Homo sapiens: one gene and its partners. The protein of the gene in region 1 purifies or fractionates together with the protein of each later gene. This does not show direct contact. Each region holds a gene or a part of one and is shown in the gene's direction. Other genes may lie near its edges.

Region 1 (3,656 bases):
AATTATAAGCAATTTTGATTGACCTGAGTCGATCACACTAGGACTGTCATAAGGGTTAGATTTTGAGTTGACTGTGGCTTTAAGGAAGAATTAAATATTGTAACACCATTTAAAGTTATAGAAGAAAGCATAAGTTACCACTCAGAATATAGGTTGGTAAGACTAAAATCTTCCTGAGCCCATGAGAATACCTGCTTTTTTTTCCAAGTCTAATTGTTTCATGAAGAATTGCTGAGCATGGTGGCTCATGCTTGTAAACCCAGTACTTTGGGAGGCTGAGGCAGGAGGATTGCTTGAGCCCAGGAGTTTGAAACCAGCCTGCGCAACAAAGTGAGACCCCCATCTCTTCAAATAATTTAAAAATTAGCCAGGGGTGCTGGTACATGCCTGGGGTCCCAGCTACTCAGGAAGCTGAGACAGGAGGATTACCTGAGCCTGGCAGGTCGAGGCTGCATTGAGCTGTGATCATGCCACTGCACTACAGCCTGGGTAACAGAACGAGACCCTCGCTCTTAAACACACACATACACACACACACACACGTATATATATAATTGGGCATACACCTGTAGTCCTAGCTACTCAGGAGGCTGAGGCAGGAGGATCACTTGAGCATAGCAGGACCCTGTCTTTAAAAAAGAAAAAGAAGAATTATTGTTGCCTTTTTCTTTTCATTTCTTTTCTTTTTTTTGTTTTGTTTTGTTTTGTTTTTTTGAGACAGAGTCTCACTCTGTCTGGAGTGCAGTGGTGAAATCTTGGCTCACCACAACCTCCATCTCCCGGGTTCAAGCGATTCTTGTGCCTCAGTCTACTGAGTAGCTGATATTACAGGTATGCGCCACCACGCCTGGCTAATTTTTGTATTTTTAGTAGAGACGGGGTTTCGCCATGTTGCCCAGGCTGGTCTCAAACTCCTGACCTCAAGTGATCCGCCCACCTCAGCCTCCCAAACCTCTGGGATTACAGGCATGAGCCACCATGCAAGTCTGGGAGGTAGTATATCATGTAAACATTGCAGGACAAAAGCATACCCAAGTGGGTCACACTGCTATCTAGGATTTGGCCTTTGGCTTTCAAGATCCAAAAAGTTCAACTATGAATTCTGCCAGAACTGATCAGGGTTTAGAGGATGTAAAGCAACCTCTTTCTATTGTGTCTCTAGCACCATCTACTGGGAAACAAAAGTGCCTTTATTTTTTTTTTTTTATTTTTTTTTTTTTTGAGACGGAGTCTCGCTCTGTCGCCCAGGCTGGAGTGCAGTGGCGGGATCTCGGCTCACTGCAAGCTCCGCCTCCCGGGTTCACGCCATTCTCCTGCCTCAGCCTCCCAAGTAGCTGGGACTACAGGCGCCCGCCACTACGCCCGGCTAATTTTTTGTATTTTTAGTAGAGACGGGTTTTCACCGTTTTAGCCGGGATGGTCTCGATCTCCTGACCTCGTGATCCGCCCGCCTCGGCCTGCCAACGTGCTGGGATTACAGGCATGAGCCACCCCGCCTGGCCAAGTCTCTCACATTTAATCCCAACACAATGCTGTATACAAACCAAGTGACTCAGAATAAGAATGCAAAAGTAAACCAGACAAATGCAAGCCGAAGTAGTCTCGGCCGGGCTCAGTGGCTCCTGCCTATAATCCCAGCACTTTGGGAGGCCGAGATGGGCAGATCACCTGAGACCAGCTTGGCCAAAACGGTGAAAGCCCATCTCTACTAAAAATACAACAATTAGCTGGGTGTGGTGGCAGGCACCTGTAATCCCAGCTACTTGGGAGGCTGAGGCAGAAGAATCGCTTGAACCTGGGAGGCCAAGGTTGTGGTGAGCCGAGATCACGCCACTGCACTCCAGCCTGGGCAACAAGAGCAAAACTCTGTCTTAAAAAAAAATTGGTTGCATGTGCAAATATTCCCTATTTAAAAATTTGGCCAGATCACACCTGTAATCCCAGCACTTTGGGAGGCCAAGGTGGGTGGGTCACTTGAGGTCAGAAGTTTGAGACCAGCCTGGCCAACATGTTGAAACCCCGTCTCTACAAAAAATACAAAAATTGGCTGGGCATGGTGGTGTGCCCCTGTAATCCCATCTGTTTGGGAGGCTGAGGCGGGAGAATCACTTGAACCCAGGAGGCAGAGATTGCAGTGAGCCAAGGTTGAGCCACTGCACTCCAGCTTGGGCGACAGAGTGAGACTCCGTCTCAAGAAAAAAAAAAAAAAAAAGAGCAAGGAATCCTTTGTGCACTTCCCAGATTCTCTCGGTTAAACAGTGGACACCCACACACCAGGATGGTATCGCCTGGACCTCAGTGTCTCACTTGAGTGCTTCGTACCTAGGCATCCTGAGGCTGTATGTGAACTCAGAACTCCAGTCTTCAGGCACTAGGAAGACTACATTTCTGAACAGCAGTTCTGAGTTTAAGAAAAGAAATGGGGCCGGGTGCAGTGGTTCACGCCTGTAATCCCAGCCCTTTGGGAGGCCAAGGCAGGTGGTTCACGAGGTCAGGAGTTCGAGACCACTCTGGCCAATATGGTGAAACCCCGTCTCTACTAAAAATACAAAAATTAGCTGGGCATGATGGTGCGTGCCTGTAGTCCCAGCTCCTCGGGAGGCTGAGGCAGGAGAATCACTTGAACCAGGAGGCAGAGGTTGCAGTGAGCCTAGACTGGCCATTGCACTCCAGCCCAGGCAACAGAGGGAGACTACGTCTCAAAAAAAAAAAAAAAAGAAAAAGGAAAAATAAATGAAATGTCCTCTTTTACTCAGATAGATTTGTGTGTTCTCTCAGCATTTAGGAACCCACAAAAGCAGAACCAAATGTTTTAAATGACTGGCAATTGGTTCTTCTTTTACTTTTTAAATTATTTTAATGGTAAGGTACAAGTTCCTGCTTTTTCTTAGCCTCCTAAGATTTCAGCCCTACTTTGCATGCTACTTCTCTCCCCTGATTACAGTGGAAGCCAAGTTCCTAAAATTGCCATTTGACCACATGAAAGGGAAAAATAATTATCACCCTAAAAGAGTATGTTAACCTCCTAACATTTGCATTTACCTTTAAAATATATGAGACAGCTCTGGGACTATAAGAAAACTTTTTAGGCCAGGAGTGGTGGCTCACACCTGTAATCCCAGCACTTTGGGAGGCCAAGGCAGGTGGACCACCTGAGGTCAGGAGTTGGAGACTAGCCTGGCCAACATGGTGAAACCCCATCTCTACTAAAAATACAAAAATTAGCTGGGCGTGGTGGTGTGTGCCTGTAATCCCAGCTACTTGGGAGGCTGAGGTGGGAGAATCACTTGAACCTGGGAGGCAGAGGTGGCAGTGAGCTGAGATTGTGCCATTGCACTCCAGCCTGGGCGACGAGCAAAACTCTGTCTCAAAAAAAAAAAACTTTTTTTTTGGCTGGGTGCAGTGGCTCACGCCTATAATACTAGCACTTTGGGAGGCCGAGGTGGGCAGATCACCTGTCAGGAGTTCACGACCAGCCTGGCCAACATGGTGAAACCCCGTCTCTACTAAAAATACAAAAGCATGGTGGTGTGCACCTGTAATCCCAGCTACTCATGAGGCTGAGACAGAAGAATCACTTGAACCCAGGAGGCGGAGGTTGCACTGAGCTGAGATCGCGCCACTGCGCTCCAGCCTGGGTGACAGAGCAAGACTCC
Region 2 (3,311 bases), on another chromosome or scaffold:
CCAGGTTCAAGTGATTCTCCTGCCCCAGCCTCCCGAGAAGCTGGGATTACAGGCACATGCCACACACTGAGCTAATTTTTGTATTTTTAGTAGAGATGGGGTTTCACCACGTTAGCCAGGCTGGTCTTGAACTTCTGACCTCAAGTGATCCACTCGCCTCAGCCTCCCAAAGTGCTGGGATTACAGACATGAGCCACCACGCCTGGCCAACCATATGATTTTTAAGGCCCCTTGCTGGAAGATCTGCCTTTAAGCTTCGGCAGGTTTCTGCCCATCTTTTCCTACTGTCCCTGCTTGGGTGGCCTCTTGAGAAGGGTCAGGAGGGTTTTTTGAGTTGCTTATGGCCCTAAAAGAACAGTGGTAGGGCTGAGGAATCACAGACTGATGGCATCCTTGAGCTGGAAAGGCCACAGGAGCTGGCCAGCCCTGACTCCTTCATGTACAGATGAGGTAGCTGAGGCCTGTGAGAAGCAGGACCCTCCTCCCACCGACTCCCTGCCCATGGTCACCCAGCAAGTCAATGGTGAGGCCAGGCCTAGAACCTATCAAGAGTTTTCCTTTCTTTTTGCACTCTTTTGTCAGAGTAAAACTCTGGGTCCTCCCATGTGCTGCTGGGGAGCTGTAAATTGGCATAGCCATTTAGGAGGGCGATTTTGCAATGTCTATTAAACATTCAAAATGTGCCAAATATCTGTTGCCCCACAATTTCCATTCTGTGAATTCATGGTATAACAATATTTTTATAAGTGTTTTAAGACAAGTTCAAATATGTTTACTATAACATTGTGATAGTGGTGAAAAATTAGAAGCATCCTCAATGACCTTTAACAGTGGATTAATTAAGTGGATGTGTGGTACGTCCACACTGTGGAAGATTGTAGCTTTTAAAAAAAGAATAGGGCCGGGCACTGTGGCTCACGCCTATAGTCCCAACACTTTGGGAGGCCAATGCAGGTGGATCACCTGAGATCAGGAATTCAAGACCAACCTGGCCAACATGGCGAAACCCCATCTCTACTAAAAATACAAAAATTAGCTCAGTGTGGTGGCTCATGCCTGTAATCCCAGCCACTCGGGAGGCTGGCTGAGGCAGAAGAATCGCTTGAACCCGGGAGTCAGGCTACAATGAGCTGAGATTGTGCCACTGCACTCCAGCCTGGGTGACACAGCGAGACTCTGTGTCAAAAAAAAAAAAAAAGAATGGACCGGGTGCAGTGGCTCACACCTGTAGTCCCAGCACTTTGGGAAGCCAAGGCAGGCGGATCGCTTGAGCCTAGAAGTTCAAGACCAGCCTGGGCAATATGCGAAACCCTGTCTCTACATAAAATACAAAACTTAACCAGGCATAGTGGCATGTGCCTGTAGTCACAACAACTTGGGAGGCTGAGAAGGGAGGATCACCTGAGCCCAGGTATTCAAGGATACAGTGATTTGTGATTGTGCCACTGCACTCCAGCCTGTATAACACAGTGAGACCCTGTCTCTAAATAAATAAATAAATAAAAATGAATAAATAAAGAGAAAAGTAAAATATTAGCAAGACCTGTTTATATAGTGTGATGCGATTTGGAGGAATTATTTTTCATTTGTCTATCTAGGACAAAGTCTAGATAGAAGCCAGACTGTTCACAGTGATCTCTAGGGGCAGGATCAGTAGGGGGCCTTACTGCTTCTACTTTTATTTAGAAATGTTTGCTTTTTTGAAAAAAAAAAAAAAAGTGTCTATATTACTTTTGCAATTAAAAAAAAAAGGTGGCTGGGCACGGTGGCTCATGCCTATACTCCCAGCACTTTGGGAGGCCAAGGCGGGCAGATCACTTGAGATTAGGAGTTTGAGACCAGCCTGGGCAACATGACAAAACCCTGTCTCTACTAAAAATACAAAAATTAACCAGGTGTGGTGGCATACGCCTGTAATCCCAGCTGCTCCAAAGGCTGAGGCATGACAATCACTTGAACCCAGGAGGTGGAGGTTGCAGTGAGCTGAGATCATGCCACTGCACTCCAGCCTGGGCAACAGAGTGCGTCTCTGTCTCAGAAAGCCCTAGTATAGAACAGAGATCAGCACATGGGCCAAATCCTGCTCACAGCCTGTTTTTGTATGTTCAGGAATAGAGTTATAAAAAAAATACACAGAATATACAACAGAGTCTATATGTGACCCACAATGCCTAAAACATTTGCTTTCTGGCCTGTTACAGAAGAAGTTTGCCGATCCCTGCTCTAGAGGAAAGGGCAAGGGTGGTTGTGAGTAGTAATTTAGAGCCTGAACTCTTTCTTGCTGTAACTGGGAGGGTCTGTGCTTCCTCTCCCCATACCCCATTTCCTCTTCCTGCAGGAGTTAAGTATGACATTGACCTGCCCAACAAGAAGGTCTGCATTGAATCTGAGCACAGCATGGACACTCTGCTTGCAACCCTGAAGAAAACAGGAAAGACTGTTTCCTACCTTGGCCTTGAGTAGCAGGGGCCTGGTCCCCACAGCCCACAGGATGGACCAAAGGGGGCAGGTGGGTAAGGCCCCAGCACTTGCTGAACAAACCTACAGCTCACACCTCTCATCAGAGCGAACACCTTGGCCTTTGAGAGCTTGAGTGGAGCGGGAGAGCCCTCTGGGTTCTTTTCAATCCACTGTCCACCTTCTTTGGAGTGGTTACAAATATTTTATTATTGTCTAATGCAAATCACAAGTTCAGGGAATTCTTACAGACCCTGTGAGTGGACAGAGCACTGTGTAATGTCTCCCAGAGTCCTCTTTCAGACTTGAGGGTTGCAGTTCATGGTTAGCAGGGTTTAAGTTTACAGTATGTGACCCTAAGCAGTGCACCTTTGACTTCTTTATTTGTTCATTGGTTTGAGACAGTGTTTCACTATATGGCCCAGGCTGGAGGGTAGTAACTCTTCATAGGTGTGATCATAGTGCACTATAGCCTTTAACTCCTGGGCTCAAGTGATGCTCCTGCCTCAGCCTTCTAAGTAACTGGAACTATAGGCACCTATCACCACACATGGCTCTGGCTTTGATAAACTGACTATCTCATCAGAGTTGACACTTGTGCCTTGGGCCTTGTTCTCCTGTGCCCTGACCAAGTGAGTTAATTCAGACTGTGCCGCTCTCTCTACTTGAAACTGTTGTCAGCTTCCTGAGCATGCCCTCTGTCCAGACTGGTACAAAAACAATAGCATGTTTGAGCTAGATGTTCCCTTCACTTTTATGTAATCCAGTGATGCAGTAAGGGGCACTGTGCCAGCACTCTTCGCTCTGGAACCAGGCAGACCTTACTCATTGATCCAGCCACAGTCTCAGCAGGG
Region 3 (3,656 bases), on another chromosome or scaffold:
CTTCATATTCCTGGAATGAACTCTGCTTGGTCACATAGGTTATTTTAGGTAATTACTGCATTAAATTTACCGACATTTTATTTAGGGTTTTTCTATCTATTTCCACAAGTGAGATTAGCCTATAGTTTGCTTTTGAGGGCCATTCTTGTCAAATGTAAGCATCTGGGTTAGACCAGCCTCCTAAAATGAGATGGGAAACTTTCCACAGCTTCTATTATTTAGAACCATTTATAAAAAGAAAATACCACTTTTTCCTTGAAGGTCCAACCAACTTGTTGTAACACTTTTTGGGCTTTGTTTCTGACAACTTTTCTATTTCTTTATTTTTAAACTCTTGTGTCAATTTTAGAAATTTGTATTTTTTCTAGAAAAATCAGCCATTTAAAAATTTTTAAATCTTTTTAAAATTTATGTTTGTCTATTATTTCTAGTATTGATTATGTTTAATGACACTCAAAGTTCTTTTTCTATATATTTTTTTAAATTGAAGAACCACCTTGTAATTTTTTTATCCAATCTGCTATTTTCCCCTGGTTCAATAAATTTTGCTTTTATCTGTTAATTTGCTTCTTCTAATTTATTTAACTACTTTTTGCTAGGTTCCTATGTTATATGCATACTTTATTTATTTTCATTATTTATTTTCTTTTTTTCTTTTAAATAATTTATGTTAAACCTATTGTATCACACAGTATGTTTTAAACACTGCCAGATAACTCCCTAATCAGATAAAGCAAAGACAAAAAAGTTTATCTTACTAGAAACAAGAGACATCATCACTTATAGTTTTCAAACATTATTGCACTTTAACTGTCATAATTTGACAAAGAATTCATGAAATAATCTACAGACTAGTTTTAACAGACAAATAATACTTGTAAGCAGACATGACTGTCCTAAATTGTTTTTTAGGTATCAACTTTACAAACATTACTTACATTAGTGGTAACGGTGGAGTTGGAGAGTATTGTGCCTTTTCCAAGATGCACAGTGAGAATCACCAGGAGTGTGGTGGAACTTATGACCCTACCAAGGCCACGGATCTTTCGGCCTGCAGATGTCAGCCCATGCATCACCCTTTGCTTGTGGACTGGTTTGGTGATCCACTGGGTGGCAGGATTTTTTCTGACAGCATTATGGAGTGGATGAATGAGGATAACTTCAAACATTTTGTATGTTGAATCTTCACCGAAGTGAGAACTCAGGACTCTTAGCCGGGCATGGTGGCTCACACCTGTAATCCCAGCACTTTGGGAGGCCAAGTTGGGTGGATCACTTGAGGCCAGGAGTTCGAGACCAGCCTGGCCAACATGGTGAAACCGCGTTTCTACTAAACAAAAATTACAAAATTACAAAAATTAGCTGGGTGTGGTGGCGCACACCTATAATCCCAGCTACTTGGGAGGCTGAGGCATGAGAATTAGTTGAACCCAGGAGGCAGAGGTTGCAGTGAGTGAGATTGTGCCACTGCACTCCAGCCTGGGTGACAGAGCAAGACTCTGTTTCAAAAAAAAAAAAAAAAAAAAAGAAATACTATATATATATATATATATATATATATATATAGAAATAAAATGTATAAATATGTCTATATGTATAAATAAAAATATATGTACATGTATATCATATATACATGTACATATATGTATGCACATATATGTATGTACATATATACATGATGTACATGTATATCATGTATACATGTATATATATGTACATATATATATATATGTGAATTCAGGACTCTTAGAACCCCACAGTGGCGTCCAGCTTTCTCGTCTTCAATGGACTTCAAGCATACTTTAGCTGGTTAACACCACAGTGGACAGGCTTGCCATAAGCTGCACCCTTAGGAACTGGGCATTTTCGGCCACCATGGTGCACACGAATCCTATATATAACGTAAACTTGCTTGGCCTTGTAGCCCTGTCGGTGCACTTTTTTGGGCTGGGTGGGATGTGGAGCCCTGTGGTAGAGCAGAGAGCTGTCAGTACTGCTAGCAGGGACTCTCCGAAGAAAGTGCATGGTATCAGACTGCTGCTTCCTCCACAGCTCCTGAATGTACTTGTATGCAGTTATCTTGGCTTACCTGATGGCTGTTGCCAGACGGAAAGGAAAGAGCCTTTCTCCCCCATTATTTATTTTCTTATATGAATAGAAGGCTAGAAAATTTTCTGAGTGCTATTACGGTTGTGCCTCATGGGTTTTGATATGTAGACCTCTCATTATTATTTTCAAAATAGCTATAGCTGTGGCCTTAATTTCCACTTTCCTTCAGCTTCTTGCTCATTAATTTGCTCTTTAACTCTTTTCATTCTTCTATTCAACCTATCTACTATTTTTATTTTCACCATCATAACCTCGTTTTCTAAGATCTCTAATATAATTTTAATTTTGTTTTTATGTTTAATTTTTGATCTTGGAGAAATTTATTGTGATGAAAGGAACAAAACAGAGATTCAAATTCACCCTCCTTTCCCAATGGTAATTACCAATCTTTGAAATTCCATCTCTAACATATATTAAATTCTCAAATATAACAGTAATAATAGTAATAACTAATAATTATTTTATACTTATAAAACCCTCAAACAAACCTTTGCAGTGAGTTCTAGTATTAGCCTCAGTTTGTAGATGAGGAAAATTGAGGCATGGAGCAACTCATACAAATTAACATAAAAATTCATGTTATAACCAATTGTTCTTAAATTAGTATTAAAAATTAACATTTTCTATAATGCCATGACTCGATATCCTGATATTGAAGAGAAAACAAGCACAGACAGGATGGGGGACTTGCCCAAGGTCACAGTGGAAGACTGAAAATACATGTCATAGCTCCTGAAATTTTAATTCATTCATTTCTGCAGTTAGCCACACGGTCTGAGAGAATCAGTCCTTTTATTAAAGTCCATTTCATTCACAACAGTCATAGCTTTGTTTCTCAAGTTCTGTTACTAATACTGCTGTTCTTTTTTCTTTGTTTCTTTCTTTTTTTTTTTTTTTTTTAAGATTTTAAGTCAAAAGAGCATTCAGAGCACCAGAGTCAGCAATTTGTGCTGCAATACTTTGGCCAATTCCCCATTTAACAGTATGATCTTTGTAGGAGCTCTTATTTTCATATTGAAATGCTCATTGTATTTTTTGGGGGGCATACTTTCAGTGACTGCATTAAGACACAAGGTCTTGTTGGTAGCTCACCTAGAGGTAAAATACAGCTACTTCCCCCAATTACAGCCCTACCATTCATTATTAGAGGGTTAGGTATGAAGTTTAGAAAAACACTGTACACTTCAGTTCTTTCTGTTCTTAGAGAAAAATGCCTTCCTTGTTTCCTTTTATAGCCTCCATGCATTTGAATTTCTAAGGTAGGAATGTTGTATAGTAAGCCTCTTGGTACTGAAGCAGTTATAAGCCATGAACAGACTGCCTTCCCAAGGAAGTCTAGGAAAATGACAAAGTTTTATAATTCAAAATAATTTCATTAAGACACATTTTAGGAGACTTATTCTAACTCTGCTGTTAGCACTTCATGTTATTTGTGTTTGCAGTCCTTATAAAAACAAATTAATAAGGATTCAAGTTCAGGAAAACTTGAATTTCATCTGTATATGATTTTCACAGGCAGAAACATTAACCCCTATTAAGGCTAGCAG

What was found.
Region 2: the proteins of GALM (region 1) and ATOX1 fractionate together in Homo sapiens (co-fractionation; one large-scale study listed by BioGRID). This does not show direct contact.
Region 3: the proteins of GALM (region 1) and GALK2 fractionate together in Homo sapiens (co-fractionation; one large-scale study listed by BioGRID). This does not show direct contact.

Annotation. Positions count from the first base shown.
Region 1 is NC_000002.12:38,725,024-38,728,679, forward strand, and holds part of GALM (galactose mutarotase), read left to right. Parts: intron 1-3,656. UniProt on the Homo sapiens protein: Mutarotase that catalyzes the interconversion of beta-D-galactose and alpha-D-galactose during galactose metabolism.
Region 2 is NC_000005.10:151,745,477-151,748,787, reverse strand, and holds part of ATOX1 (copper transport protein ATOX1), read left to right. Parts: intron 1-2,338; coding exon 2,339-2,463; 3' UTR 2,464-2,509; intron 2,510-3,311. UniProt on the Homo sapiens protein: Binds and deliver cytosolic copper to the copper ATPase proteins. May be important in cellular antioxidant defense.
Region 3 is NC_000015.10:49,176,662-49,180,317, forward strand, and holds part of GALK2 (N-acetylgalactosamine kinase), read left to right. Parts: intron 1-3,656. UniProt on the Homo sapiens protein: Acts on GalNAc. Also acts as a galactokinase when galactose is present at high concentrations. May be involved in a salvage pathway for the reutilization of free GalNAc derived from the degradation of complex carbohydrates.